Regions from separate parts of the Homo sapiens genome. Here all the other regions are linked to region 3. The links come from fine-mapping of genetic effects on gene expression. A gene starts in region 3. Each other region holds a variant in brackets. All regions are shown on one strand. Distances are from middle to middle.

Evidence for each region. PIP is the estimated chance that this variant, and not a neighbour inherited with it, causes the effect.
Region 1: its variant is fine-mapped to the expression of ITGA4 in whole blood (TOPMed, PIP above 0.99).
Region 2: its variant is fine-mapped to the expression of ITGA4 in whole blood (TOPMed, PIP above 0.99).

Annotation. Positions count from the first base shown.
Region 1 is chr2:181,345,430-181,355,760 of GRCh38, forward strand. All of the region lies in intron 3 of LINC01934 (long intergenic non-protein coding RNA 1934), which reads left to right. Among named protein-coding and RNA genes, the nearest start is that of MIR4437, 45 kb to the left of the region's middle. The variant C/T (reference allele first, on the strand shown) is at 3,950.
Region 2 is chr2:181,288,160-181,298,490 of GRCh38, forward strand. All of the region lies in intron 3 of LINC01934 (long intergenic non-protein coding RNA 1934), which reads left to right. Among named protein-coding and RNA genes, the nearest start is that of MIR4437, 12 kb to the right of the region's middle. The variant A/G (reference allele first, on the strand shown) is at 4,953.
Region 3 is chr2:181,451,781-181,462,111 of GRCh38, forward strand. It overlaps ITGA4 (integrin subunit alpha 4), which reads left to right and starts at 5,606. Exons shown (of 28, transcript NM_000885.6): 1 at 5,606-6,071; 2 at 6,416-6,537. The coding sequence starts at 5,875. RefSeq lists enhancers at 5,113-5,222, 5,943-6,132, 6,193-6,242, 6,603-6,652, 9,430-9,479 and a silencer at 5,403-5,792.

The sequences.
Region 1 (10,331 bases), 110 kb before region 3:
GCTGGGATTACAGGCGTGAGCCACAGTGCCCAGCCTCGTGTTTTATTTTTTACTCTCTCTGATCATAATGGCAGGTGTAGCAAGAACAGGAAAATTCCAAACACTTCTGCTCCCTCTACACTCATTATCCTGGAGACCCTAACTGAGACAAGAAGAGTTTCCTTTCTGACTCAACCAGGCCTCTCTCACTAGCCAACTTTTATAGCCAAGAAAGGAGTATCAGCCAGGGGTGCTTGGAATTTAGGAACACCCTCTTGTGGAGCAAGACTTCCTGGTTCCTCACTGGAAGGTTGCACATAAGAGGCTGATAGCAGCCAGCAATAATAATATGTCTAGTTTCAGCTTTTCAACAAATGTAACTAAAGAACATATTGAGAAAAAGTAGCTTCCACTTCCAGTGGGTAACCAAGAGGAGCTCATAAAATCTGAGTTTCATTAAAGTAAGGTACCACTATGTACCTACTACAGTGACCCGAATCCAGAATACTAACAACAAATGCTGTGAGGATGTGGAGGAAGAAGAACTTCTGTTCATTGCTGCTGAGAATGCAAAATGGTACAGCCACTTTGGAAGACAGTTTGGTGGTTTCTTACAAAATTAAGAATCTTCTTCTCATAGAGTCCAGCAGTCAGGCTCCTTACTATTTACTCAAACTTATGCCCACACAAAAATCTGCACACAGATGTTTATAGCAGCTTTTTTCATAGTTGCCAAGATGTTCTTTCATAAGTGAATGCATAAATAGACTGTGATACCTCCAGATAATGAAAGAATCAATATCGTGAAAATGGCCATACTGCCCAAGGTAATTTACAGATTCAATGCCATCCCCATCAAGCTACCAATGACTTTCTTCACAGAATTGGAAAAAACTACTTCAAAGTTCATATGGAATCAAAAAAGAGCCCGCATCACCAAGTCAATCCTAAGTCAAAAGAACAAAGCTGGAGGCATCACACTACCTGACTTCAAACTATACTACAAGGCTACAGTAACCAAAACAGCATGGTACTGGTACCAAAACAGAGATATAGATCAATGGAACAGAACAGAGCCCTCAGGAATAACACCTCATATCTACAACTATCTGATCTTTGACAAACCTGAGAAAAACAAGCAATGGGGAAAGGATTCCCTATTTAATAAATGGTGCTGGGAAAACTGGCTAGCCATATGTAGAAAGCTGAAACTGGATCCCTTCCTTACACCTTACACAAAAATCAATTCCAGATGGATTAAAGACTTAAACGTTAGACCTAAAACCATAAAAACCATAGAAGAAAACCTAGGCTTTACCATTCAGGACATAGGCATGGGCAAGGACTTCATGTCCAAAACACCAAAAGCAATGGCAACAAAAGCCAAAATTGACAAATGGGATCTAATTAAACTAAAGAGCTTCTGCACAGCAAAAGAAACTACCATCAGAGTGAACAGGCAATGTACAAAATGGGAGAAAATTTTCGCAACCTACTCATCTGACAAAGGGCTAATATCCAGAATCTACAATGAACTCAAACAAATTTACAAGAAAAAAACAAACAACCCCATCAAAAAGTGGGTGAAGGACATGAACAGACACTTCTCAAAAGAAGACATTTATGCAGCCAAAAAACACAAGAAAAAATGCTCACCATCACTGGCCATCAGAGAAATGCAAATCAACACCACAGTGAGATACCATCTCACACCAGTTAGAATGGCAATCATTAAAAAGTCAGGAAACAACAGGTGCTGGAGAGGATGTGGAGAAATAGGAACACTTTTACACTGTTGGTGGGACTGTAAACTAGTTCAACCATTGTGGAAGTCAGTGTGGAGATTCCTCAGGGATCTAGAACTAGAAATACCATTTGACCCAGCCATCCCATTACTGGATATATACCCAAAGGACTATAAATCATGCTGCTATAAAGACACATGCACACGTATGTTTATTGCGGCACTATTCACAATAGCAAAGACTTGGAACCAACCCAAATGTCCATCAATGATAGACTGGATTAAGAAAATGTGGCACATATATACCATGGAATACTATGCAGCCATAAAAAATGATGAGTTCATGTCCTTTGTAGGGACATGGATGAAATTGGAAATCATCATTCTCAGTAAACTATCGCAAGAACAAAAAACCAAACACCGCATATTCTCACTCATAGGTGGGAATTGAACTATGAGAACACATGGACACAGGAAGGGGAACATCACACTCTGGGGCCTGTTGTGGGGTGGGGGGAGGGGGGAGGGATAGCATTGGGAGATATACCTAATGCTAGATGACGAGTTAATGGGTGCAGCACACCAGCATGGCACATGTATACATATGTAACTAACCTGCACATTGTGCACATGGACCCTAAAACTTAAAGTATTAAAAAAAAAAAAAAAAAACTAAAGTAGAAAGAATACTGGAAAATAAAATTTAAAAAAAAACAGAAAAAGATAATGAAAGAATACTCAGCACTAAAAAGAAATGAGCTATCAAACCACGAAAAGACATGGAAGAGCCTTACACGATTTTCATTAACTGAAAGAAGGAAATCTGAAAAGGCTACATATCTGCCAGTGAGGAATACGTGTATGACTCCAGCAGTCTGACGTTCTGGAAAAAGCAAATCTATGGAGATGATAAAAAAGATCAGTGGTTACCAAAACTTGGGGGTTGGGGAAGGAATAGGATGAGCATAGAGGATTTATCAGACCATGGCAATACTCTGTATGAAGTATAATGATGGATACATGTCATTCTTATACATTTGTCTAAACATGCATCCTGTGTGACTGTGCACATTTAAAATATGGACTTTAGGTGATAATGATGTGTCAGTGTATTTTCATCAATTGTAACAAACATACCACTCTGGTGGGGGATGTTGATAATGGGGGAGGCTATGCATGGGTGGGGACAGGGAGTATGTGACAAATTTCTGTACCTTCCTCTCAGTTTTGCTTTCAACCTAAAACTGCTCTACAAAAAAAAAAAAAAAAAAAAGACTTTTTTTTATACTCAGAGTTTTTTTTTTTCTGAGATTAAGTTGGTTCCAGTGATGTGCATTTACTAACTTCCCCTTTTCTCATTTATTTAGAAATAATATACAACAAGATGTACCTCAAGAATCCATAGAAATGGAGCAAATGAACAAATAATCAAGGGCTACTCCTGTCATTATAATTTTGTGGCTGACCTGGAAGTTATCTTGGTGTAGCTCTGTGACTATTTATATAACCTACTCCTAGCTTCTCTCATTCTCAGGGTCTCTATTCTTAACCACAACTATTTAAACAATATATTTATTGGCAATTCTAGATGACAGATGGACATGTGCTAAGATGATCAGTGTGCACATCTGATTTTTCTAAATAGCCCACAGTAAGTGAATAAGTGAATGTTCAGAAAATATCTGCCATGCTAAATTTAAGGTTCTCGTGCATATTTTATTTAGCATTACAAATTGACTAACAAAATTAAGTAGGGAAAATATATATCAGATCCATGATGTTTTGTGAATAATTGACTAGCCACACAGGTGCATAAGATTTCAGATGAAAATTCCTTCTTTTGTGTGGAATATGTACTATTAAAAGATTATAGGGGGAAATTCCATGGATTCCTTGTCATCCTTTAGAATAACAAGATTTTGTGCATAGTTTATTAAATAGCCACCAGTTTTCTAAATTTTTTGCCATTGTTATAATTTTACCTATATCACACTTATTCTAAGAAAATAAAATTTTATCACTTATTCTGACAATCATTATGCTTAAACAAAACTGCCTCTATTTTCTTCTGTTCTGGGGAACAGGTTGCTGCTTAAGCATAGCACTCTATCCTTGCTTTCCTATAGCACTCTGCACTTTCACCTTGTAGCACTTGACACAATTATAATGGTATAATGACTCCTATAATGATTCATTTTATATTTGTCACCACCACTCAATTATAAA[C/T]GATATGCAGTCAAGGTTCATGGCAGAAGTTTTTTAACTCATGCTATGGCCTCAGCCCAAAGTAGATAATCAATGAATATTTTTTTTTAAATTAAAGAATGGATAGACAGAAGAGAGTGGGGAATCCTATATCTTCCTCTACTCTTTGCCTTAGCTTTTCTAGGACTGCTGTGAGTAGTTGGGGCTAAAAGGAGGCAGAGGGGACTCAGGCAGCAAGCTCCTCTGCCACCAAAACCTCTGCTCAATCTGTGCTCAGTCCCTCCCACTTTGGCTCTGGGTGTCAAATATCCTGCCATTGTGGACATAAACAGATGAGAATATGATTACTGTGAGACCAGCAAAAGTTTTAGTGCGCTGACAAAAATAATAATAATAATAATAATTGCTTACACACATGGTCAAGGTCACTCTCACACCACACACCAACATTTAGGTAGCACACACTCAGCCCCTTTTGTAGACAGAATTTATTGTGGACAACTATACTACTATGAGTATATCCTTAACCTTTTGAAGTTGACCTCAGGGAGGAGAACCAGGAGGATAATTTACACAATTCTCTTTAGTGTAACTATCAGAAATAGAACATAAGATAGCTGGAATACAATTCTAGCAGTGTTTTATATTTTACTGTTTTATTCTGATTATTTAACATAAATAACTCGCCACATACAGTACAGCTTAAAATAAATCATTAGAACTATATATGTAACATACTAAGTCTAGGTGGGCCCAGTGATGAAGCAGATACAGGGGCTTCAACAGACAAGGTGAAAATAGATTAAAATGAGCATTAACCACTATTTAAGGAAATGTATGTCAAAAATCAGGTTGTAATAATAAAAATAATATTAAATAGTCATGATGACAGTAATCAAATCTGATGATGGAATGTGGACTCAAAAATACCTAAAGATTAAAAAATTCAGGCCAGGCATGGTGGCTCATGCCTGTAATCCCAGTACTTTGGGAGGCTGTGGAGCTCAAGACCAGCCTGGGCAACATGGCGAAACTCCACCTCAACACAAACAACAAAAATTAACCAGTGATGGTGGCATGTGCCTGTCGTCCCAGCTACTCAGGAGGCTGAGGTGGGCGAATCGCTTGAGGCTGGAAGGCGGAGGTTGCAGTGAGCCGTGAGCCGAGATGGAGCCACTGCACTCAAGTCTGGGCAACAGAGCAGGACCCTGTCCAAATAAATAAATTAATTAAATAAATAAATAAATAAATAAATAAATAAAAATCAAGCAAGAAAATTCCTAATGGGATGGAAATGCTAAATGTTAAATAATAAAGAAAATTGCATATTATGACTTGGTGATTCAAATATTATAATGAAATAATTTATAAGAGATAGTAGAAGAATAAGAAAGTATGTGTTGCTAGTTAAAGTCAATCAGTCAAAAAATATTTTGGTCTTTTTCATCTATACCAACCCTGCAATAACCTTTTAAATGACTTTCCCATTTCTGATTTCTTTGCTAGTCCATCAGGCTCCTTTCTTGACTCTGTGTTTAAGTCATTTTCTCCGTTTCACATGTTCATAAATTTTAAGGCCCAGTTGAATGCTAACTATTTTCCATGAGGTCTTCTCTGATCACTAGCTATTAGTAATGTCTCCCTCCACCAAACTGCCATAGAACTTTTTCAGCACCTCTCTTATTTATGACTCTTTGAACTTTCTACTTTGTAGTTTAGTGACTAATGTACATTTTTTTAAGTTCCTTATTTGTTCATAAACTTTGGAGAGTGCAATTTCTCTTTGACGGCATACACCACACAGTTTATTATACTATTCAGTACACAGCAGGTGCTCAACTGGTAAATGTAGACAGTACACAATTTTCAAGAAAAGTTCTTATACATGAGATTCCAGAGAGCCTCCACACTTCTCTTTTCTCCCCAAGTTTCCTTCCCTGCTTTTCTAAACTTGGCTCTGAGTCCCCATTCAAGACTTAGCTCCTTAGTGGAGCTTCCCCTGACCCCCACATTCAAAGTTGTCTCTTCCCTGACAAAAACTCATCTATTCAACATCTAAAAGGTTTGAGTCTTCATGTGCTACCTTGTGGTAGGTCACCATTTTTATGTTTATCAACTATTACCTGCCTCCCATTCAAGATTGTAAACTTTTTGAGAGCAGAGATCACATTTTATACATTTTGGTACTTACTGTCATTTAGTACTATTTATATATTTAGTAGTTATTGTCAGTCTCAGAACAGTGCTCCACGTCTATTGATTCTATTTTGTTCCCGAGATATCCTAAATATCTAGAACACTATCTGGCACACAGTAGGTGGTCAGTAAGTATTTGTTGAATGAGGTTGATAGATGATTAGTAAAACTTCTCAAAATTTTGAGTGAAAAGTTGACTCTTTGGCAGAAACTTCCAGGAGTTGATTTTAGAGCTAAGAAAAAATAGAAAGCAATGTCCACTCTTGGTAGAGCTAGGCAAAAACAGGCAGATGAAGTAGACACAGGTGTCTTCTCCACAATCCCCATTTCACTTTATCTTAGGCATGTCTCCTTCAGGAGCCACAGCCAGATCAGAGAGGCCTCCACTTGGAAATGATCCATCTCAGTGGTGTGGATGGATTAGACCATTTCTCCCACAACTAAGTGGTTTTTCTCTGGCCATTCTGAGGTATATGCCATGTGTCTCCTTCAGAAATATCCTTTTTCATGTGATGATTTCCAAAATATATTTTAGTCACTTCACTTTGTGTTTAAGTGAATAACTATGTCTCCATTCACTTATCATTAATAAACATATAATAATTCACCTAATCATGGAGGTGTTGGTTAAGCCAGCATATTTTGAGTTCATGTAGCCAAATACAGTGGTATTTAGTCACATGAAAGTTTAGCTTAGAACACAAATATGTGCTTTTTTTTTTCTGTTGGAGCTCTTATCTTGCAACATCCTTCCTTCTTTTCTTCTTTCCTTCCCTCCTACCCTCTTTCCTCCCCGCTTCTCACCCTCCCTCCACTAGTATCTACTGAAGCCCTTCTATGCAAAGCACAATACTACTTGCTGAAGATATAATGAGGAACAAGTCAGAAGTGTCTCTTCCTGTTCTACTAGAATTTACACTCTTAGAAGAGATGCAGACATTCAATTACTATTTTTTACTATTTTAATTCCAACTATTACAAAAGTTGGACAGATAAAGAGGGACAGATAACTATGGGAGCTTAAAGGAATCTATCCTGGTTTGGTGGGAAAGGGATGATAGATTTCAGTAGTCTGGAAAGGGTCACCTGAAAAAATGGTGTTAAGACTGAGTCATGAAGAGCTAGTAGGAAGGGAGGGTGGGAGGAAGGAGAGAGAGAGTGGGGAGTATTCCAGGTAGAAGAAAGCAAATGTGTGGCCTTGAGTGGTCACTTCTCTTTGGCTTATCGTATATATCTATGAGCTAATGAGAATGAAAATTCCTTTTTTTTCAAATTGTTAGGTTAGCTTAAAGAGATATTGACTCATTAAATACAAAACACAAGAAGACATTAATATAAAATTGTATACATTTTTTAAAGCCTATATTTTCTCCCTTGAATTAAAAATAAAGTGCAGCATGTTGAAATGTTGAACCCTGGCCATATGACAAAATTGGAAGTCTCTCTTTGCTTACACCTTGGGGCAGAGGCAGGCATCAGACAAAGTCCTTTTTATTTTGTATCCTTAAGAGTATTTCAAGGTCAAGTTAAATGAAAAACTAGTCATTGGCTCTGTTAGATTTTCAAATATATCCTCAATAAAATGTACACTATTAATCATTTTCATATTGGTGATTTTAATCAACTTTTAAACCATTACTTTTTAGAAAAGTTTTTCACAATTTCTGGTTTCTAGGGTAATTGAAATTTCAGTATATAATTATAGTAGTATAAATATGATACTTAAAAGTATTATTAAAGGTCATTAAAATATTTTAAAAAAACTGGTAGGGCAAGAAGACTTTACTACAAGTTAATGAAATGGGGGTAATTTAGTTGAAAAGAAACAAAATGATTACAAATTAAAGATTACTATTCTGTGGCACTCTTTCTTTAGTTGACAGTGAATAAGGTAGAGTTACTATATTTTTATTCATATTATGATTTGGCCCCTTTCTAGAAAAGTGAAAATTTTATGTAACTCTGATACATGGAATATATTTTGAAATTAAGAAGTATATGTACATATATTAGTCATTATTATTACTGCAACTATTCCTAGTGAAAAATATACCTCATTCAAAGAGAAAGATAAATTTCAACAACTGTTATATATGCACACTTTTTGCCCATAAAACTAAGCAAGCCTAATAAATTAAAATTTATCTAAGTCACAACCATCCAATTAGGGACACTTTCTTGCAATCAGATTACAAAGGATATTTTTATCTCTTTCAATTTAGCAGTCAGGTTAGGGCTCCCTAATAGAAGGCTGCGTAGCTCATTAGTCCTACCACTTTGGATGGCCTTTACTCTTAACTTCATTCTCCGTAACTCAAGGGGAGTCAGTGTGTAACTGTGGGTGCAGAGCAGCAATGAGGATGCTTGAGTCTTCATTCTGAAGGGATCACCTGTGGAAAGAATGATCAGCTTTCAGAAAATCTCATCTGGTTAAGTCATATTTCTCTGCTTTAAAATGTTACAGGATTTCTCATTGCCCTTAGCACAGTTTCTCAAACTTTATTGAACATCAGAATTACTTGAAGGGTTTTCGAACTCATGAATTATTCGGCCTTGCCCCAGAGTTTCTAATTCAGTAGGTCTTGGGTGGGGAACATACTTTGAGAATTCTGACCTATAGGATAAACACTAGAGTTCTTATTATGTCTTACAAGGCCCATCATGATCTGAAGGCAGCGGTGGTTGCTGGTGGAGGATGTGAGCTTTGGAACTGGAGCTCTTTGATTCAAAGCTCTGCCGCTTACTCACTGGATAAGACCATGATCAAGTTATTTCATCTGAAAAATTGAGGTAATAATAATATCTCCCTCTTAGGGTGGTTATGAATATTTTATGAGATAGTACTTTTTAAAATAGGTAGATTCCAGAAGAATATCAGCTATTAGGATTATGATTACCTCTCCGGTTTCTTCTCTTGGTTGGATGTCCTAGTGCCAACCATACCAGACTACTTCAGACCATAGTAACATCACGGTTTTCCATCCTTGAAGCTTCAAATGTTCAGTTTTCTCAATATAGTTTCTACCCTTTTCCTACATCTTTCCCACCTTCATCTAGCTAACTCCTACTGAGACTGGAGAGCTCAGCTTTTACGTCACCATTCCAGGAAAGCCAACCTAGCCATGGTTGTATGTACTTTGCCATTAAAACACTGATGTCCACGTACATGTTTGTATCTGTCTTCTCTACTGGACTACAAACTCAGGAGGGTAAGAATGATCTGTTCACTGGTACAGTCTCCATGCCAAATAGTTGCTTAATAGGTATCTGCTGAGTACATGAATGAATCATCATTCATGCTGTCTGTGGGATTCTGGTCTGGGCTCACAAAAAAAAAAAAAATGAAAGTTTAGTATAGAACACTGGAGTGGAGAGATCTCTGCCCCTTCACTGGAAAAATATGCCAAGACTGGAACTGAATGACAATAGATACCTAGCACCTTTTGCGAAGTTATGAATATCAGAGGCATATGACATACAATATGTCTAGTCACATTATGTTAATACAGGGATTTTAATTTCTTTTATATTTAGATATGTCATTCTACTACTTAAATCTTTAAAAATACTAAAGCTAAGAAGAGCTCTGGGAAGGAAACACAACATAATAGTTTCTTTAGCAGCTTGGTATGGCTATTTTGTCTAATCAGCAGCACAGTGGTTACAAGTATAGATTCAAGGACACAATACTGCTTGTATAACTTACTTGCTGATGACTTTGGCTAAGGTTCTTAGTTTTCTGAGACCAGATTATTTTCCTGGTAAAATGGGCAGAATAGTAATTATCAATTAGTATTATTACAATTGAAATTAAGTACACAAAGCTCTTAGGCACTTATTCCTAAGAAGCAATCCTGATATATTTTAGCTATTCATTGTTTTATGATGTGGCCATTATAGTGTTCTTCTCATGGAGATTCAGTCAAAAACTAATCGTGTATATGTCTGCTTTGACTTGATTTTATAAAAGGAGAATGAATTTCAACATGTAATCAGAGTAGAAATGGAAATGATGAGCAAACAGGGTAAAAACCACTTCAGTGATGAAGTCTATAGTAAATCTCCATAAAACTGCTACTCGGAATTATTTGGGGATCTCTAAGTATAAAACACATAGAATCATGTAAACGAGTTTGATCAGTGGTAAAGTTTGGCTGAGTTTGTCTTTACTGAACTAGAGTAACATTTGTTTCCATATTTACCTATG
Region 2 (10,331 bases), 160 kb before region 3:
ACCAACTGGCAGCAACAGATAGCAATACAGAAAAGCAGAAAGCCAAACTTTGAGTTATAAATGTTTCTATGGCAGTGACCCTTTGTGAATTTAAAAATTGAATTTAAGACCCCTTTTCGTCATTCTCCGTATTTTCAGTCTTGGTCAATAGGTCTGCCCCTAGAGTCAAAGTGTTTTATTACCCTACAAAGCTTTTAATTATGTGTTTGTGAGCCCAAATATATCCTAAAACAGCATGGTGGAAGCGATGGCCCAGTGCCTCTTTGTTGGAGGCATTCTTGTAAAACAAATTATTTTTCTTATATGATCTTGGAATATATCCATTTCAGAATATATATGTTCAAGGTATCCAAAATATGTGTGTGTGTACATGCTTGTGTATAATATGTAGTATAAACTACGATATGATATAAATAAATAATATAAATATTAATTTATATTATTTATATAAATATTATATTTATATTATTTATATAAATATTATATTTATATTATTTATATAAATATTATATTTATATTATTTATATAAATATTATATTTATATTATTTATATAAATATTATATTTATATTATTTATATAAATATTATATTTATATTATTTATATAAATATTATATTTATATTATTTATATAAATATTATATTTATATTATTTATATAAATATTATATTTATATTATTTATATAAATATTATATTTATATTATTTATATAAATATTTATTTATATTATTTATATAAATATTATATTTATATTATTTATATAAATATTTATTTATATTATTTATATAAATATTTATTTATATTTATATAAATAATATATAAATAAATATTTTATATGTATATAAATATTATTTATATTATTTATTTAAATAAATAATATAAATTAATATAAATATTAATATTATTTATTTTATTATAAATAATATAAATATTATATTTATATTTATGATATTATAAATATTTATAATATGAAATATTTTATAAATATTATATTATTTATATAATTAAATAATATAAATATTTATTTATGCAATATAATATTTATATAATTTATATAAATAAACAATATACATATATTTATGCAATATAATATGGCACTGAAGTCATGTACAGAAATATTTGAACTTGACTCCACTAAAGGCAGCAGAATAAATATTGTGTATATGTTTAAAATATTAAATATCCAAAGAGTTTTCATAAAAACTGAAACTGTGCTTTTGTATATTATTGAAAATAAGTATTTTATGAAGAAAAACATATATTTTTAAAACTGCATATTTTTATAATATTAATTTCTTAACATAATGGAAACTAGAATCAACCTACAAAACCTTATCATTCCCAAAAGTATCTGATAAAAGTAACTTGTCATTCAATCGAGCCACCATGTATTAATAACTTTTCAAGTGAAAAATCTAAGATGAAATACCAAGACGAACAAGGCACTATTTTTGGTAAAGTGGCTCATATCAAAATTATAGTTAGTCTTGTGAAAATAATGAGTAATGTTTTTGGTGAACGAACAAAATATCACATATTTTTCTCGCTTTCTCTCAAAACGGAAATATCTTGATCAATTTTTTCCTGATAACAAAGCAAATGTATGTCCATACTAAAAAAATTCAGACAATCCTGCTGAAACTTACTTCTTCTTGAACCTCCCTACCTCCCTACTTTCCTTCTCCACCCACCCTCTACTCCAGCTTTCCTATTTCACAAAGATAAAAATTGGATGTATATGTATACATGTATGTGTGGATGTGTGCTTGCATATGTGTATGCTTGCATCTGTAGCACTTGGTATGTAGTTTAGTGCCTGGTACATGATAAGCACTAAATAGATGTAAGCTTAATTATAATTTATAGGTGACTCGATTGCATATTTGGTCTTATAACTTTTTTGGTAACATGCCTTTTACTCTATACTGTGGCAGGGATTTTTTTTCACATATAATCATATAGATCTCTCATGCATGTTGATGAATATTTTGCATTCATTTTATTGTTATATCTTAATTTGTTTTAACAAGTTCTGCTAGATGGTCATTTCATGGTTTAAATTTATTTTTGCAAAAATGACAATGTTAAAATAAACATTGCCCTCCAAAAATATTGAACAAATTTATACTACCAAAACCAATAAATATGAGAAAACTGATTTCTTTCTACTCTCATCAGTACTTGGCATTACTCGTACTTTCTCATCTTTGCTACTCTGAGGAATGACAGATGATATCACATGATTGAACTAACTGGCATTTTTGTCAATTGTCTTTGATGTGATTATTAGTCATTGGTTTTCTTTGAGATTGCCTTTCCATGTCATGTAACCATTTCTTTTTGTGAAATTTTTATATGCTTTCAGTATGTGCTATTTCTTTACATATTATGAATATAAACTCCATTTCTCTCACATAGGTTGTAAGTTTTTTTCTTCAATTTATCACTTGTCTTTTGATTTTTTATATTATATGGTATATTCTTCCATGCAGATATGTGTCAACTCTCTTTTTCTTTATGCTTTATAACCTTTGATGTCAAATTAGAAAGCTTTCTACTTCAAGACTTAGATAATACTTACTCTTATGGTTTTCCCATTACTTTTACAACTTTATTTTTTTATGCTAAAATCTCACCCATCTGTTTCATCTGAGAACTATGCCCATGCATTTATGCCTTCAGATAAAATAACCATTTTCGGTTTTTGGTCAAAATATTGAATATCTATGAATTAATTTTGAGACAATTAATATCTTATCAATTCTGAATCTTCCTACCCATAACAAATATGCTATGCCTTTTCATGTATTTAACTTTTCCTTTATGTCCTTTTAGATATCTTTCTAATTCTTTGTATGGTTTTTGAATATTTCTGAAATTATATCTCTGCAGATATCCCTGCCAAAACTCTTGGAAAAGATCGGCTTTGGTTACTTTCCTCCCCTCTGAACAAATCTTCATGGCAAAGGGAAAGAAGCATTCTATTTGGCTAGGTCCAGTGTGGCCCTTGAGTTAGGCCAGGGAAAAGGAGGGCATACAGGTTGGCGCCAACCCAATCCAAACCACCGGTCTGAGCAGGAATGCTGTGGGTGGGGTTTGAGTTTTAAACGAAGAGATGCTAGGTAGAAAAAGTAAGAGAATTTTATTTATACTAAATTCTTCTTTCTTTCCCTAAACTATGATTCATCTAAAGCACTAGCTCATCCCCATCGATGCTCTTTAAACCAGACACCGTCCCTCTTCTCTCCACTTTGGTATTCATGACTTCTGCCTCCACAATCTCATCAAAAATTAGCAAATTGGAATTAACAAACCTAGAATGTCACAACAAATCTTTGTCTTCACAAAGTTTTATATCAAATTGAGATTGTTTTTGAAAATGCTTCTATTTTTATTTCCATTTACTTAATGTTAATTTTTGCTCTACTTTTTCTTTCTTTCTTTCTTTCTTTTTTTTGCTTGGCTTGGCTTGGTAAACACAAGAAAATAAAGATTTTCAGATTTCTTCTTTATCTTGCTCTGAAATAAGATCTCTTTTTTTGTTCTTTGCGTGACACTGCTTGGAAACTTTCTTGGGGCTGTATTTTAATTATAGGATTCAAATCTATTATAATTTGGGGGTTGTAAATATGTGTCCAGAGACCTAGGATAAAGGGTAAAATTAAATCCATGTTCCCATTTTGATCCTGGGTTAGGCATAGCAATGAAAAGAACTAAACGTTCTAAATGGTTACAGTTCCAAACTAGGTAATTATTAATGATTAATTGCTTCTCCATGTAAATAAAAATGATGAAGTTTAATCTATACATTGATTTCTACAGACCTGGAGTGATAATGGATTTTTTAAATAGTTTCTGAAATGTTTTTATTGTCCTTAACAATAAAATAGTCACCTAAAGCAAGTCGCAATTTACAGAAGAAAACCATTAACTAACATAGATTGGTTTATATGGCTACCTGTTTGTATACTTCAAGGGATATAGATTGATGAATATTTAATTTTCAGTACATTTATAAGTGATAAAAGAATCTATTACTTACCAGTGTTTGTTTTAAGGTGTGCTACCTCAAAGCACAAAAGAGATATAGAAATACTCTACCCTAAGATAAAAGGAGATGTTGCAAAATATTTAGAAACCAATGAAGATATTCCCTAAAAACCAATTATCATAGGATGTCCAATATTTGGAAGTGATGCCCCGATACCATTTTATGATAATAGATTATCTAACAAAGTTGAAAGTATAAATAATTATAATAGCAAACAATGTTGTATGTGAATAAACTAGAACTTTTTTGTTTGGGTTTTGCAAAAAATAACACAGAGCTACAGACATTGTATATTATAATTAAGTAAATGAAAATATTGGTTTTGATTTTGGAAAACTTTTCCTGCCACTTCCAATTTCTGTTATATTAATTTTAGTTATTATTTTAATCTTGCAGATTTATTCTTCAGCCATGCCAAGTTTATTATTCAGCTTTTACTATTTAAAAAATTTGATAGTCATATTTTCAGATTTCAAAATGCAGTAACTCCTGAATGTTTACACATATATTAACACTTATATTTCCAATTTCTTCTCCTTATTATGTAATCTCTGACTCCATCGTTTCATCTCCAAATTTAGAGCTCTTGGGAGCTCCATGGGTTAGAATTACTCACGTCTTTGGTGTAACTTGCTCAGGTACATTTTCCAGGATAAAGTTCCTCTGTGGCTTGTACATCGATATGAACCCATTTGCTTTCAGATTTCCACATAGTTTAGGAAGCTGCTGTTTGTTGATGACACACTCACTCTTATTTTCAGCACTATCTACAGATTTGTTCTTTTTAGTATATCTTCACTGTCACTGAATAGCATCATTGGAAAGAAGTGAAATACACCTGGGTGTTCAGTAGACCGTTTTGAACCAAAAGTCCAGTTCCCTTTTAACAACAAAGAATAGGAA[A/G]AAAAAAACCTACTTTCAGAAATATTTTTTATTTAAATTCATATTTTTTCTGTCATTTTTGAGAGCTTTACTATGAACTATACTGAATGATAAATGTTTTATATGCATTTTCTCATTTAATCTTCATGTCACCCTCAAAGGTGCAGATTACGTTCCCCTTCTTATAAGGAAGAAAACTAAAGTTCAAAAAAGCTAAATAATTTGCCCAAATCATACAGGTAGAAAATAACAGATTTGAGAACTAAACCTATAGTTAGTTGTTGCCAGAAGCTATACTCTAATCACTCTACATACTGCCTTTCTATAGTAGACCATTTGGTCTACTATTTCTAGTACACTTAGCTGCAAACACTTCTTATTGCCTATTATAAACTCAGTAGTTTCCTAGATGTTGTATTTGTAAAGATGAATAAGGCAGTCTAGGTATACATCCTAATTCTTGAAGAATTTCAAAGGAAGGAGAGCAAGATGGCAGAATAAAAGTCTCCACTGATCGCCCTACTCCAGACAAGGACACCAATTTGACAACTATTTACACAGAAAAAACACCTTTATAAGAACCAAAAATCAGGTGAGCACTCATAGCACCTGGCTGGAACTTCATATCACTGAAAGAGGCACTAACGAGGTAAACAAACAAACACAAAAAGTCCTGAATCGCTGATGCTACCTTTTCCCCAACCGCAGCAGCAGCGATGTGGTGCAGGTAGTATATCTGGGCACTGGAGGAAGGAGAGGACAGCAATTGTGAGGCATTGAACTCAGCACTGTCCCATTAAGGCACAAAGGAAAACAGGACCTAACTCAGCTGCCACCTGCCCATGGAGGGAACATTTAAACCAGCACTAGCCAGAGGGGAATTGCCAATCCCAGTGGTCTGAACTTGAGTTCCCACAAACCTCACCACTGCGAGCTATAGTGCTCTGTCTCCAAGTAAACTTGAAAAGCAGCCTAAGCCATAAAGACTGCAATTCTCATGCGAGTCTAGGGCTGAACTGGGCCCAGAGACAGTGGACTGGGTGGGGTAGGGGGCCACAGGACATACTGAGACATCAGTTGGGATGGCTAAGGGAGCGCTGGCATCACCCCTCCTCTAACACCAGGTTGCACAGCGGCTCCAAAAGAGACCTCTTTATTCCTTTCTTCTGCTTGAGGAGAGGAACAGAAAGTGTAGAGAGGGCTTTGTCTTGCCTCTTGGAGACCAGCTCAGCCACTGCAAGACAGGGTATCGGTTAGAGTCATGAGGCCTCCATTCCAGGCCCTAGCTTTCAGACGACATTTCTAGACACACCCTGGGCCAGAAGGGAACCTGCTGCCTTGAAGGAAAGGGCCCAGTGCTGGCAGTATTTATCACCTGCTAACCGAAGAGCCTTTGGGACCTGAACAAGCAGCAGTGACACCCAGGTGCTACACCAACGGCATTAGATGAGCCTCTGAGACTTACTGGCTTTAGATGAGACTTGGCACATTACAAGCTGTGGTGGCTATGGGGCAAAACTCTTTCTGTTTGAGAAAAGCAGAGGGAAAAAGTAAAGGGGACTTTGTCTTACATCTTAGGTATCAGCATGGGCCACAGTGGGGTAAGCACCAAGTGGGATCTTAGGTCCCTGATTCCAGGTCTTGACTCTTGGATGGCATTTCTGGACCTGCCCTGGGCCAGAGGGTGCCCACTGCCATGAAGTGTGAGTCCTAGGTCAGGCAGCATTCACCACAAGCTGACTTAAGAGCCCTGGGGCCTTAAGGTAATTTTGGAGGTAATCTGGCAGTAGTCCTCATGGCCTGGGTGGTGGTGGCTAAGGGTTGAGGCTCCTCTGCCTTTGGAAAGGGGAGAGAAGAGTAAAAGGACTACATCTTGTGGTTTGAGTGCCAGCTCAGCTGCAGTACTATAGAATACCAGGTAGACTTCTAAGGTTTTTGACTCTAGTCCCTGACTCCCAAAGAGCACCTCTGGACCCAGGGAAGAATGCAGACATGGATGGCTTTGCCACCTGCTGAGTGTAGAGCCTCAGGGCCTAGAGGGAACATAGGCAGTAGCCAGGGAGTGACTACAGCAGGCCTTGAGTGAAACTCAGCACTGTGCTTGCTTCAGGTCTGACCCAGTGCAGCCACAGTGGTCATGGCCACAAAGATGCTTCTGTCACTTCACTCCTAGCTTTAGGTGACTCAGAGCAGAGAGAGGGCCTCTGTTTGGGAGAAAGTATGGGAAGACAACAAGATTCTCTGCTTGGTAATCCCGAGAATTCTCCTAGATCTTGCTCAAGACCATCAAAGCGGTACCTCTACGAGTCTGCAAGAACCTCAGCGTTACTGAGGGTAGGGTGCCCTTTAAAGCAGTTACAGCTTAGATTAAAACACCTAAGTCTTTTTAAATATCTGTAAAGCCTTCCCAAGAAGGATGGGTACATATAAGCCCAGACAGTGAAGACTGCAGTGAATACCTAACTCTTCAGTGCCCAGACACTGAAGAACATCTACTAGCATTAACACCATCCAGGAAAACATGACCTCACCATTTGAGGTAAATAAGACACCAGGGACCAATCCTGGAGAAACAGAGATATGTGACCTTTCAGACAGAGAATTCAAAATAGCTGTGTTGAGGAAACTAAAAGAAATTCAAGGTAACACATAGAAGGAATTCAGAATTCCATCAGATAAATTTAACAAAGAGATTCAAATTATTAGAAAGAATCTAGCAGAAATTCTAGAGTTGAAAAATGCAATTGGCATACTGAAGAATGTATCAGAATCCTTTAATAGCTGATTGATAGCAGAAGAAAGAATTCTTGAGCTTGAAGATAGGCTATTTGAAAATTCAGTCAGAGGAGATGAAATAAAAAGAGTGAAGAAACAATGAAGCATGCTTACGGGATCTAGAAAATACCCTCAAAAGGGCATATCTAAGAGTTATTGACCTTAAAGAGGTAATAGAGAAAGAGATAGGGTAGAAAGTTTATTCAAAGGAATAGTAACAGAGAACTTTCCAAACCTAGAGAAAGATATCAATATCCAAGTACAAGATTATAGAACACCAAGAAGATTTAACCCAAAAAAGGCTACCTAAAGGCATTTAATAATCAAACCCCCAAAGATCGAGGATAAAGAAAGGATCCTAAAAGCAACAAGAGAAAGGCAACAAATCACATACAATGGAGCTTCAATACATCTGGGAGCAGAATTTTCAATGGAAACCTTACAGGACAGGAGAGAGTGGCATGACATATTTAAAGTGCTGAAGAAAAAGTACTTTTACCCTAGAGTAGTATATCCAATGAAAATAATCTTTAAACATGAAGGAGAAATAAAGACTTTCCCAGACAAACAAAAGCTAACATCAACACCAGACCTGTCTTATAAGAAATGCTAAAGGAAGTTCCTTGATTAGAGAGAAAATGATGTTAATGAGCAATAAGAAATTATCTGAAGATACAAAACTCACTGGTAATAGTAAGTACATAGAAAAGCAGAGAATATTAGAACACTGTTAAGTGTGGTATGTAAATACTTTTATCCTAAGTAGAAAGAGCGCTTAACCAATCAAAAATATTAACTACAAAATTTTTCAAGACATAGTCCAATGTGACATAAATAGAAACAACAGAAAGTTAAAAAGGAGAAGGACAAAGTTGACGCATAGAGTTGTTATTAGTTTTCTTTTTGTTTATATGTTTGCTTGTTTATGCAAACAGTGTTAAGTTGTTAGGGTAAAATAATGGGTTATAAAATAGTATTTTTAAGCCTCATGGTAACCTCAAACCAAAAAACATACAATAGATACACAAAAAATAAAAAAGCAAGAAACTAAATCATATCACCAGAGAAAATTACCTTAATTAAAGGAAGACAGGAAGGAAAGAAGGAAGGAAGAGAAGACTAGAAAACCACAAAATAATTAATAAAATGGTAGAAGTAAGTTCTTATTTATCAACAATATCATTGAATGTAAATGGACTAAACTCTCCCGTCAAAAGACATAGAAAAGCTGAATTATTGAATCAATGAAAAAACAAGACCCATTGACCCCTTGTCTACAAGAAACACACTTCACCTACAAAGACACATATAGACTGAAAATAAAGGGTTGGAAAGTGATATTCCATGCCAACAGGAACCAAAAAAGAGCAGGAGTAGCTGTACTTATATCAAATAAAATAGATTTAAAGACAAAAGCTATAAGAGACAAAGGTCACTATATAATGATAAAGGGGTCAATTCAGCAATATATATGCAGCCAGCACTGGAGCACCCAGCTATATAAAGCAAACATTATTAGAACTAAAGAGAGAGATAGTCCCCGGTACAATAATAGCTGGAGACTTCAACACCTCACTTTCACATTGAACAGAACTTCCAGACATAAAATCAACAAATAAACATTGGACTTAATCTGCACTGCAGACCAAGTGGATCCAATAGATATTTACAGAACATTTAATACAGTGGTTGCAGAATACACATTAATTTCCTCACCACATGGATCATTCTCAAGGATAGACTATATGTTAGGCCACAAAACAAGTCTTAAAACATCCAAAAAATTGAAATATGTCAAGCATCTTCTCTGACAACAATGGAATAAAATAGAAATCAATAACAAGAGGAATTTTGGAAACTATACAAATACATGGAAGTTAAACAATATGCTCCTGAATGACTAGTAAGTCAATGCAGAAATTAAGAAGGAAATTGAAAAATTTATTGAAAAAAAGATAATGGAAACACAATATGTCAAAATCTATGGAATATAACAGAGTACTCAGAGAGAAGTCTATAGCTATAAGTGCCTACATCAAAAAAGAGGAAAAACTTCAAATAAACAATCTGATGATGTATCTTAAAGAACTAGAAAAGCAAGAGAAAACCAAACCCAAAAATACTTGAACAAAAGAAATAATAGACCAGAGCAGAAATAAATAAAAGTCAAATGAAAAAAAAAATACAAAAATCAATATAACAAAAACTTGTTTTTTAAAAAAGTTAAAATTGACAAACTTTTAGCTGGACTTAAGAATAAAAGAGAGAAGATACAAATAAATAAAGTCAAAAATGATAAAGGAGACATTACAACAGACACTGCAGAAATTCAAAGGATTATTAGTGCTGCTATGAGCAACTATATGCCAATAAATTGGAAAATCTAGAAAAAATGGACAAATTCTTAGACATATACAACCTACCAAGATTGAACCAGAAAGAAACCTAAAACTTGAACAGACCAATAACAAGTAACAAAATCAAAGCCATAATAAAAAAATTTTCCACTAAAGAAAAACCCAGGACCAATGGCTTCACTGCAGAGCTCTACCAAACATTTAAAGAACTGTATACTTCCTAATTCTTGAGGTGCTGGTTCAAAGGAATGTAGTTAAGTAAACTGTT
Region 3 (10,331 bases):
AAGTATTTTAATTGTATCCCCCACTGACCATCCAATACAGTTATTTGATATTAGTTGTGAATATCTTTTTTCCTTTTTTAACTTTGTTTTATTATGGTACAATATACATATAAAATGTATCATCTTTACCATTTTAAGTGTAAAGTCCACTGGCAATAACTACATTTATATATATATTTTTCCCTTTATCGCCCTCCACCTACCGTTTCCTCTCCTATAGTAACTACCATTCTACTCTCTATGTTCATGAGATTTGCTTTTTAAGCTCCCACATATGAGTGAGGGCATGCAATATTTGTCTTTCTGTGCTTGGCTTAGTTCACTTAACATAATTGCCTCCAGGTCCATCCATGTTGCTGCAAATGACAGGATTTTAATTTTTTTATGGTTGAATTATATTCCATTATGTATGTATGTTTCTTTATCCATTCACTCATTGATGGGCACTTAGGTTGATTCCATATTTTAGCTATTGTGAATAGTGCTGCAATAAACATGGGAGTGTAGATATTTCTTCAATGTATTGATTTCCTTTCTTTAGGATATATACCCACAAGAATTGCCAGATCATATCATCGTTCTAGTTTTACTTTTTTGAGGAACCTCTATTCTGTTCTTCATAGTGGCTGTAATAACTTACATTTCTAGCAGCACTGTATGAGGGTTCCCCTTTGACCCCATTTTGTCACCGGCAACTGTTTTTGCCTTTTTTATATAAGCCATTTTAACTGGAGTGAGGTGATATCTCATTGTGGTTTTGATATTCATTTTTCTAATGATTAGTGATGTTGTACATGTTTTCTTATACCCGTTTGCCATTTGTATATCTTCTTTTGAGAAATATCTGTCGAGATCTTTTGCCAATTTTGAAATTACATTCTTTGTTAGGTTTTAGTTTTGTTGCTATTGAGTTGTTTGAGCTCCTTATATATTCTGGTTATTAATCCCTCATCAGATAGTGTGCCAATGTTTTCTCTCATTATGTGGGTTCTCTCTACATTTAGTTGATGTTTTCTTTGCTGTGCAGAAGCTTTTTAGCTTGATGTAATCTCATTTGTCTATTTTTGTTCAGGTTGCCTGTGCTTTTTAGGTCTTACACAAAAAAATCTTTGCCCAGACCAATATCTTAGAGCATTTCCCCAATGTTTTCTTTTAGTAATTTCATAATTTCAGGTCTATAATTCATTTTGATTTGGTTTTGGTGTATTGGTTATTTCAATAGATGCTGAGATAGCATTTGATAAAATTCAACATTCCTTTATGATAAAAATTCTCACCAAAATGGATATAGAAGGAACATACTTCAAAATAATGAAGGCCATATATGACAAACCTACAGTCAACATCATACTGAACACAGAAAAAATGAAGGCCTTTCCTCCAAGGACTGAAACAGACAAGGATACCCCCTCTTACCACTGTTATTCTACATAGTGCAGAAAGTCCTGGCCAGAGCTATCAGGCAAGAGGAAGAAAGGAAGGGTATCCAAACTGGAAAGGAAGAAGTGGTGAGAAAGTTTTAATTTTATTTTTTTGCATGTAGTTATTAAGTTTTCCTAGCACCATTTATTAAAGAGACTGTTTTTTTCCATTGTATGTTCTTTACAGCTTTGTCACAGATTAGTTGGTTGTAAGTGCATGGATTTATATGTGGATTCTCTATTCTGCTCCATTGGTCTATGTGTCTGTTTCTATGCCAATACTGTGCTGTTTTGGTTACTATAGCTTTGTAGTAAATTTTGAAGTTAGGTAGTGTGATGCCTCCAGCTTTGTTCTTTTTGCTCAGGATTGCTTTGGCTATTCAGGGTCTTTTGTGGTTTCTTATAAATTTTAGGAATTTTTCTGTTTCGTGAAGAATGTCATTTGTATTTTGATAGGAATTGCATTGAATCTGTAAATTGCTTTAGGTAGTATTGTAATTTTAACAATATTAGTTCTTCCAGTCTATCACGGAGTATATTTCTGGGTTTTTGTGTCCTCTTCGATTTCTTTTATCAGAGTTTTATTTATAGTTTTTCCTTGCATAGATATTTTACTTTTTTAGTTAAATTGATTCCTAGGTATTGTACATTTTTGTAGCTATTGTAAAAGGAACTGCTTTCTTGATTTTTATTCAGATTGTTCACTGTTGTCATATAAATGCTATTGATTTTTGTATGTTGATTTTGCATCCTGCAACTTTACTGAATCAGATCTAACAGCTTTTAGGTGGACTCTTTAGATTTTTCTAGGTATAAGATCATGTAGTCTGCAAACAAACCTAATTTGACTTCTTCCTTTCCAATTTGGATACCCTTCCTTTCTTCCTCTTGCCTGATAGCTCTGGCCAGGACTTTCTGTACTACGTAGAATAACAGTGGTGAGAGGGGGTATCCTTGTCTGTTTCAGCCCTTGGAGGAAAGGCCTTCATTTTTTCTGTGTTCAGTATGATGTTGACTGTAGGTTTGTCATATATGGCCTTCATTATTTTGAAGTATGTTCCTTCTATATCCATTTTGGTGAGAATTTTTATCATAAAGGAATGTTGAATTTTATCAAATGCTATCTCAGCATCTATTGAAATAAGTATACCGTTTCTGTTTTTGATTCTGTTAATGACTTATATTTAGATGGTATTTAAAGACATAGGAAATGGGTTAGATCTCCTAAAGAGGGAAGATGGAAAGAGAATGAAAGAGTTTCCAGAATATAGCCCTGGGGGTTTCCCGCACTTATGGCGGAGGGAAGGGAGCCATCAGAGGAAACTCAGAGTGGCCAGATAGAAAGGCAGGAAAAAGCTTAATAAGGTGGTATCATGAGAAGAGAGTCTTCCTAGAAGGAGAAATGCTTACTCTTGATAAAAACTGAAAAATAGGGTGAGTCCACATTAGAATTCTCGCTACTGGGGAGGACTTTCTACACAAGGTTAGAGATCACTTGTATTTTGTCTACTATAATTTTAGTGCATAATGCATTTTTTTGGCATATAGTGGGCACTTATATACATATTAATCTGATGACATTTAATAATTGAGTGCCCAAATATTTATGTCGAGTTGAGAGCTAGGGATAGGCATGAGTCTTTCTTAAACATCCTTCTCTTCTCCTTCCTCCACCCCCTCACTTGCCTTCAGAAGCATTGATCAGAGAGATAGCAGTATCTTCAGTTTTTTTTAAAGCAACATGAAACACACTTTATTCCTGCTAACATTAGGAAAAGCGAGCTGTTTTCCAAGCCCTGGAGGAAGGAAATTCAGCTAACTAACGTGAGGTAATGTAGGGTGGCTATTTCTTGAAAGGTAGTGAATCATAACTATAACCATACTATGGAAAAAAGTCCTGCCTTACCAACCACTCCACTGACTGCTTGTCACCAAAACTACGCTATGAAACGAATTGTGTTGAGTGGCTTTCATTGTAAAAGATTTTGGTGAAGGGAGGGAAAGAAACTGGTAGGGGTTCAGATCAGAAGATCTGGCTTTGCCAGTTTCTGGAGGGTGTCAGAATGGCTTCAACATACCTACTTCCTTGGCCTCAACTGGAGGTTTTGTAGCTGTAAACAAGAAGGATTGCATAGTTCAGAATAACGACACTGTAAGCTCATTGTGGAACTGGGTTAAAATCAGCATGTAGATCTACTAAGAAAGAAACACACTCAGCACTACTACAGAAAGAAACAGCCATGGGCCCTGATTGTTAGCTTTCTGGAAGCCATTTCATTTTTACAATAGATTTATCACACACTGTATTGACTTTTTCCAGTATAGAGTAAGAGAAAGTTAATATTCCTCATGTTTTGTCTGTTGACAGACTGAAAATAATTGCATTGAGTTTGGCTAGAATATCCTGTCATTCCATAAACATCTCAAACTCCACATGGCTAAAACTTAACCCATCCATGCCCCCATCTGCATGCACACATACATGCATATAACTTCATTTCTCAGTGTTTTTTTCTCCATGAATGGTAGCACCATTCTCTTTCAAGAAAGAGAAATACTTCCCCTTGGGATTATCCTATCTCTACTTATTGCTGCAGGGGCTTCCAAAATTAGGTTTTCTGTGTTCAGTCTTGCATTCACACTTCTGAAACCCAGAGCTGACCGAGACAAATTCTTCAACTTCCTGTCAGTCCCAACATAGATTTAAAATTCCTAACCTGGCTCATGAGGTTCACCATGTATTCCTGCTTCCCTAAGTCAGCCTCATATCACACCAACCTGTGTGTGGAGTGGCTAAATACTCTAGCCAGGCAAGCTCTCTCAGTTCTTCTACCTGGCTCCTCTGGAGCCCTCCTTATTGCTCATCCCATTCTTAGCCTGATTCAAGATTCCTGGTCCTTCAAATCTCTCTTTAAGTGTCCTTACCTGGATCTTTCTCTAGTTAGTACAAATTTTTCTATCTACCATTGGAGCGAACATTTTTTGAAACTTTGTATCAGTCCTGCCTTACTCTTGGTGGAATCCTGTGGTCCTAGTCAAGTGCCTGCTCCATGAATGTGCTGAATAAATGAATAAGCATTTTAATTGTGTATCTGTCATTAGTGTCAGATGTGTTATTTATTCCAGCATGGTTTTAGCACACAGACACACTCTTTGATGCAGACTTTTCTTTTCTTTTTACATATAGCAACAATAAAAAACTAGACTTTCATCTCCTGAAAATATCAGTCTAATAATCACCTATGGCTGTCTCTCTGGTTGCTGAAGGAAAAAAAAAAAAAAGGCAGGGCACACCTGGATTGCATTAGAATGAGACTCACTACCCAGTTCAGGTGTGTTGCGTTGTGGGTCTCCGGCACATTTCAGAGGCTCATTAGGACCCTGACCCCACACTGGGGTTTACACCCCTAAAAGCAGGTGTGTCCCGTGGCAACTGAGTGGGTGCGTGAAAAGGGGGGATCATCAATTACCAGCTGGAGCAATCCGAATCGGTTAAAGTGAATCAAGTCACAGTGCTTCCTTAACCCAACCTCTCTGTTGGGGTCAGCCACAGCCTAAACCGCCTGCCGTTCAGCCTGAGAGGCTGCTGCTAGCCTGCTCACGCATGCAGCCCGGGCTGCAGAGGAAGTGTGGGGAGGAAGGAAGTGGGTATAGAAGGGTGCTGAGATGTGGGTCTTGAAGAGAATAGCCATAACGTCTTTGTCACTAAAATGTTCCCCAGGGGCCTTCGGCGAGTCTTTTTGTTTGGTTTTTTGTTTTTAATCTGTGGCTCTTGATAATTTATCTAGTGGTTGCCTACACCTGAAAAACAAGACACAGTGTTTAACTATCAACGAAAGAACTGGACGGCTCCCCGCCGCAGTCCCACTCCCCGAGTTTGTGGCTGGCATTTGGGCCACGCCGGGCTGGGCGGTCACAGCGAGGGGCGCGCAGTTTGGGGTCACACAGCTCCGCTTCTAGGCCCCAACCACCGTTAAAAGGGGAAGCCCGTGCCCCATCAGGTCCGCTCTTGCTGAGCCCAGAGCCATCCCGCGCTCTGCGGGCTGGGAGGCCCGGGCCAGGACGCGAGTCCTGCGCAGCCGAGGTTCCCCAGCGCCCCCTGCAGCCGCGCGTAGGCAGAGACGGAGCCCGGCCCTGCGCCTCCGCACCACGCCCGGGACCCCACCCAGCGGCCCGTACCCGGAGAAGCAGCGCGAGCACCCGAAGCTCCCGGCTGGCGGCAGAAACCGGGAGTGGGGCCGGGCGAGTGCGCGGCATCCCAGGCCGGCCCGAACGCTCCGCCCGCGGTGGGCCGACTTCCCCTCCTCTTCCCTCTCTCCTTCCTTTAGCCCGCTGGCGCCGGACACGCTGCGCCTCATCTCTTGGGGCGTTCTTCCCCGTTGGCCAACCGTCGCATCCCGTGCAACTTTGGGGTAGTGGCCGTTTAGTGTTGAATGTTCCCCACCGAGAGCGCATGGCTTGGGAAGCGAGGCGCGAACCCGGCCCCCGAAGGGCCGCCGTCCGGGAGACGGTGATGCTGTTGCTGTGCCTGGGGGTCCCGACCGGCCGCCCCTACAACGTGGACACTGAGAGCGCGCTGCTTTACCAGGGCCCCCACAACACGCTGTTCGGCTACTCGGTCGTGCTGCACAGCCACGGGGCGAACCGATGGTGAGTAGAGTTGGACTGATGCGCCCTCAGCAGCTCAGAGCGGCGTGAGAATGGCGCCCTAGGGATTCCCTGCCCGATTCAAACTTTCCTCCCTCCCAAGGAGGCAGGAGGGAAACGCTGCGAGAGCCAGCTCGCTGGAAATCTGCCAGGGAAACTAACTTATCTTGGGGCGGCAGCGCCCCGGGTGCGTTATGGTGCAAGGTCTTGGAGCTTCGAGTCGGGGGTGGTGGGCGGAGGAGGAGGTGGGGAAGCTGCCCTGCTGCGGACTGCACATCTGTGGCGACAGGGAGCTCAGTGGGCAGCACAGCTCACGTCTGAGCGCACGTGCACGTGTCTCGCTTTAGGCTCCTAGTGGGTGCGCCCACTGCCAACTGGCTCGCCAACGCTTCAGTGATCAATCCCGGGGCGATTTACAGATGCAGGATCGGAAAGAATCCCGGCCAGACGTGCGAACAGCTCCAGCTGGGTGAGTTGGGTATGGGACCAGGAGTTAGTGACCTCCCGACCCCCCATGTGGACCCCACCATAGGGCAAGTCCTGGAAAGATTCACGTTGCCTGTTACTTCTGGTTTAAAGAGCATAAAGTTTTCAGTTTCAACTCCATCTCATCTTGCCTCCTTAATATAAAAGGGATTCCCTTTCTGTTAATATCGTTCTCCCTTTTCCTTATGGCAATGATTGCAGTACTCTGACAACTATGCTAGAGAAATTTCTTATGATACCTTCTCTTCATCTCTCCCCGTCTCTCCGTGTGTAAAGCACATTTTAGACTCTCTCAGCGTATTAAGGACAGGATCCAGCTAAGCCAAGACTTGAGAATTTTATTTCCATCTTTGACCTATCAACCCTCTTAAAGAACAGGCTAAGGAGCATATCAGGAATAGCAATTGGAATTGATCCCATATCCCGTCGTTTAACCTAAAGGCCTAAAAAAAAAAGTGATAGTTTTACTTACAATATACAATCTAAAAGAAAAGGAAAATTGGCATCTTCATCGTTAATGTAGTATAATTTTCCATTCCCAAAACCGTCATCCAAAACTCATGTTATATGGGTCCATCTTTTTGCAGTCATTTCTCAATGTCTCAGATTTGTGACAAGTTGAAAAATGTGTACTGATAGAGGGGAGAAGTTTCATGTTTCAAAGCCAAAGACAAGTTTGTTGCACACAGGCAAGTGGGGAAAGAGGAAGGAATATTAAATAACAAGACCTATCTTGTTCCAAAGTGTTACTGCTATATATATTGCTTAACTTTTTTCCCCTTAAAGCAACCCTGGGTCATGGTTGACATTGTTCCTAGTTTATGTATGAGGACTGTGGCTCAGAGTTGCAAATACCTTTTTAAAAGTTACTTAGCTAGTGACTGATAGGTGGGAACTAAAGTCAAACTAGGGTCTGAATGCGTCCAAAGTCTAAGCCATTTTCTTCCATGTATGTATCTTCAATGCAAATAAAATTAAGTGAATGGTTTAATATGTTGTCTGCTGAGCTGATGGGTCATCTGTAAACGGTGAATAAAATTGGTACTTCTTTATATTTCTTTGCTATAAATGGACTTTTGAGATTAGTTATTGGATCTTTAACTTCTTTTGTATTTTATAGTAGTCTTTGCTCTTTTTCAAACTGTGAAGCTGGTTCCCTTCATTCAGATGAATTCAGATAGAGTATAAACATAATGGAATTTTTACTTTTAACTCAGAGCACCTATAAAAGTCTACGAGTTGTCTGTAGCATGTAGAATAAGCCCTAGCCTCTTGTTAAGCATCCTCAATACCAGAAATCACAGTAGGAATGCATAAAACATTCACAGACCCATACATTTTGGAATGATTTTGCAAAGCATAATTTTCATTGCATGAGAGAGTTGTGGGTGAAGAATTAGGGAGTGGAGCCGACAACTTTGGTCTGCCAGAGGATCTTGGCAAGGTCTCAGGAGGGAGCAATTTTATTTCTGTTGTCCTGTCATAGTTTCCTGATCCATGACATTATAACTACTGATATTTAGTGCCTACTTCCTGTCTGGATGGACACTGAATCTATTTCTGGATGTCTGTGTTTAACTGGATAAATCATGACATAATACTGTATTAAATTTAAGATAATGCCTGTCAATGGAAGGAAAAAATTGTTTGGGCATGTGTAGCATGGGAGTTGACTGTTCTCAGAGAAATGTAAACATAGTAGATATGTCATAGATATGAATTAAATGAAGATCTTTTGGATGGATGAATGAATAAAAGTGGAGTGAAAATTTATCAACCTGACTGATGAGTAAGATAATTGATTAGAAATGATGAGCCAAACTGATTTTTAACTTTCAAAATTTTGGCCAATCTACAAGGTATTTACTGGGATGAAAGGAAAAAAGGCAAGATTCCTAGTCAGTCAATGAGTTAAAACATTAATAGTGATAGTAATGCCTTGAGTATTTGCCGAAGAGTTGACTGAAGTTATTTCTCATGTAACATTCTAAAGAATACAGATATCTTTTATTCCTCATGTAAAGAAACTGCCTCTCTATTCAGAATAAATTCAGTGGTAGCTTGAAGCTATAAAATAGGGATTGAGGCTACAGTCTAGAAATAAAACACTAAAAACAATACATTGGTAATAAAGATAATTTAGGATTCTTAGGTTTGTGGGCTATGCACTATTTTGTATGAAGAAGTTTCAAGAGTGTGTGTAAATATATATAAGCCATCTTCTGTAGAAGAGTGTGTGTGTGTGTGTGTGTGTGTGTGTGTGTGTGTGAATCTTCTGTATAAAATAGCTTCAGTTGTCCTGTTTCAAATGTGGGTGACTCTAATGTTTCAAAAATGCTTAGCTCAGTACTGACACATAATACATTCAAAAAATAGTGGTTCTTCTTTATTGTTTACTTAAATCTATTATCTGTATGTTATCTGTAACAAGCAGGCTGAGGTTAATAGGGACAATTGATAAACTGAACCAAAAGTTTAAAAATTAAAAGGTAATACATTAAAAGGTAGAAGTTGAAATGAAACACAATGAGAAATTTTTGTTGGCTGAAGAAAAAAATGTTATAATGATTAAAGATCGATCTGTGATTGCCATGTCAGTAAGGTATCTTCTTTCCTTTGGAATAGCTTTACTTGCTATCAAGAACCTGAAGGTGTAGGGTCTTCAAATGGTGCCCATCTCCCACACAATTAAAAATATCCACATGGACTAGTCTTTGAGTCTCTGTAGAATTTCAGATCAGTGGTTGATTCAGATAGACTCCTCCCCTCAAAAGAGAAGGTCCATATCTCGCCTACCCTACCCTCTGTGGACAAGGTGTCCCATATGGTATATTCATGCCATAAGCAGAAGTGAGCCTGCCTGTTTATCTAGAATGCCCAGGGTGAGAGACGTTAGGCATGAGATACCCCTTTTAGTCAAGCAAGTTGACTGCAGAGCCAGCACCAAGAGAGTTGCCTGGATAGTACCGCAAGGTGCTTTTCTTCCTGCATATATATTGTTGGCCTCCTTTTACCTCCCTGACTCCCCAAGAGACATCTCTTCTCTCACTTCTTTTGTACCAGAGGAAAGTGGTCTCTCTGCCAGGAGGGTCTGGGCCCAGACTTGCTCGTGAAGACTATATCTGAGGAGACCCAGGTGATTTCTACATGTCCACTTTCCACCCGGGCACTCTGCATCATCAGGCTTGTTTAAAGGAAACTTTAATCACAGCTGGTTCCTAAATTAAGGTGTCACAAATAATGACTCAATTAATATAGTTAAGCATAGTCCATCCATGGACTATCAATATTCAAATAGAACATAATAAAACATAGAAATGATTATCAAATTACACTAAAAAGATGGTCTTTATTTGGTTATTCAAATATGTTTCCAGATCTTTCATTACTTTGGAGTTACCACTGAAAGCATTATACACACACTAACTCTCATTTGGGTAATAGTCTAAAGTTATACAATTACACTATCCAGTATAGTATCCACTAACCACAGGTGGCTTTGAACACATAAAATGTGGCTAGTCAGCGATGAGAGGGCTGTAATGTAAATTACATACTGGCTTTTGAATACTTAGTATAAGAAAACTCATTAATTTTTATGATATATATTGAAACAAACACTTTAAAATTATTGATTACATAATATTTTGGATTTATTAGGCGAAATAAAATTTTAGGTTAAATAAAATTAATTTTATTTTTACTTTTTTCATGTGGCTATTATAAAATTTAAAATTTCCAATGGGCTTGTATTATATTTCTATTGGACAGCACTGC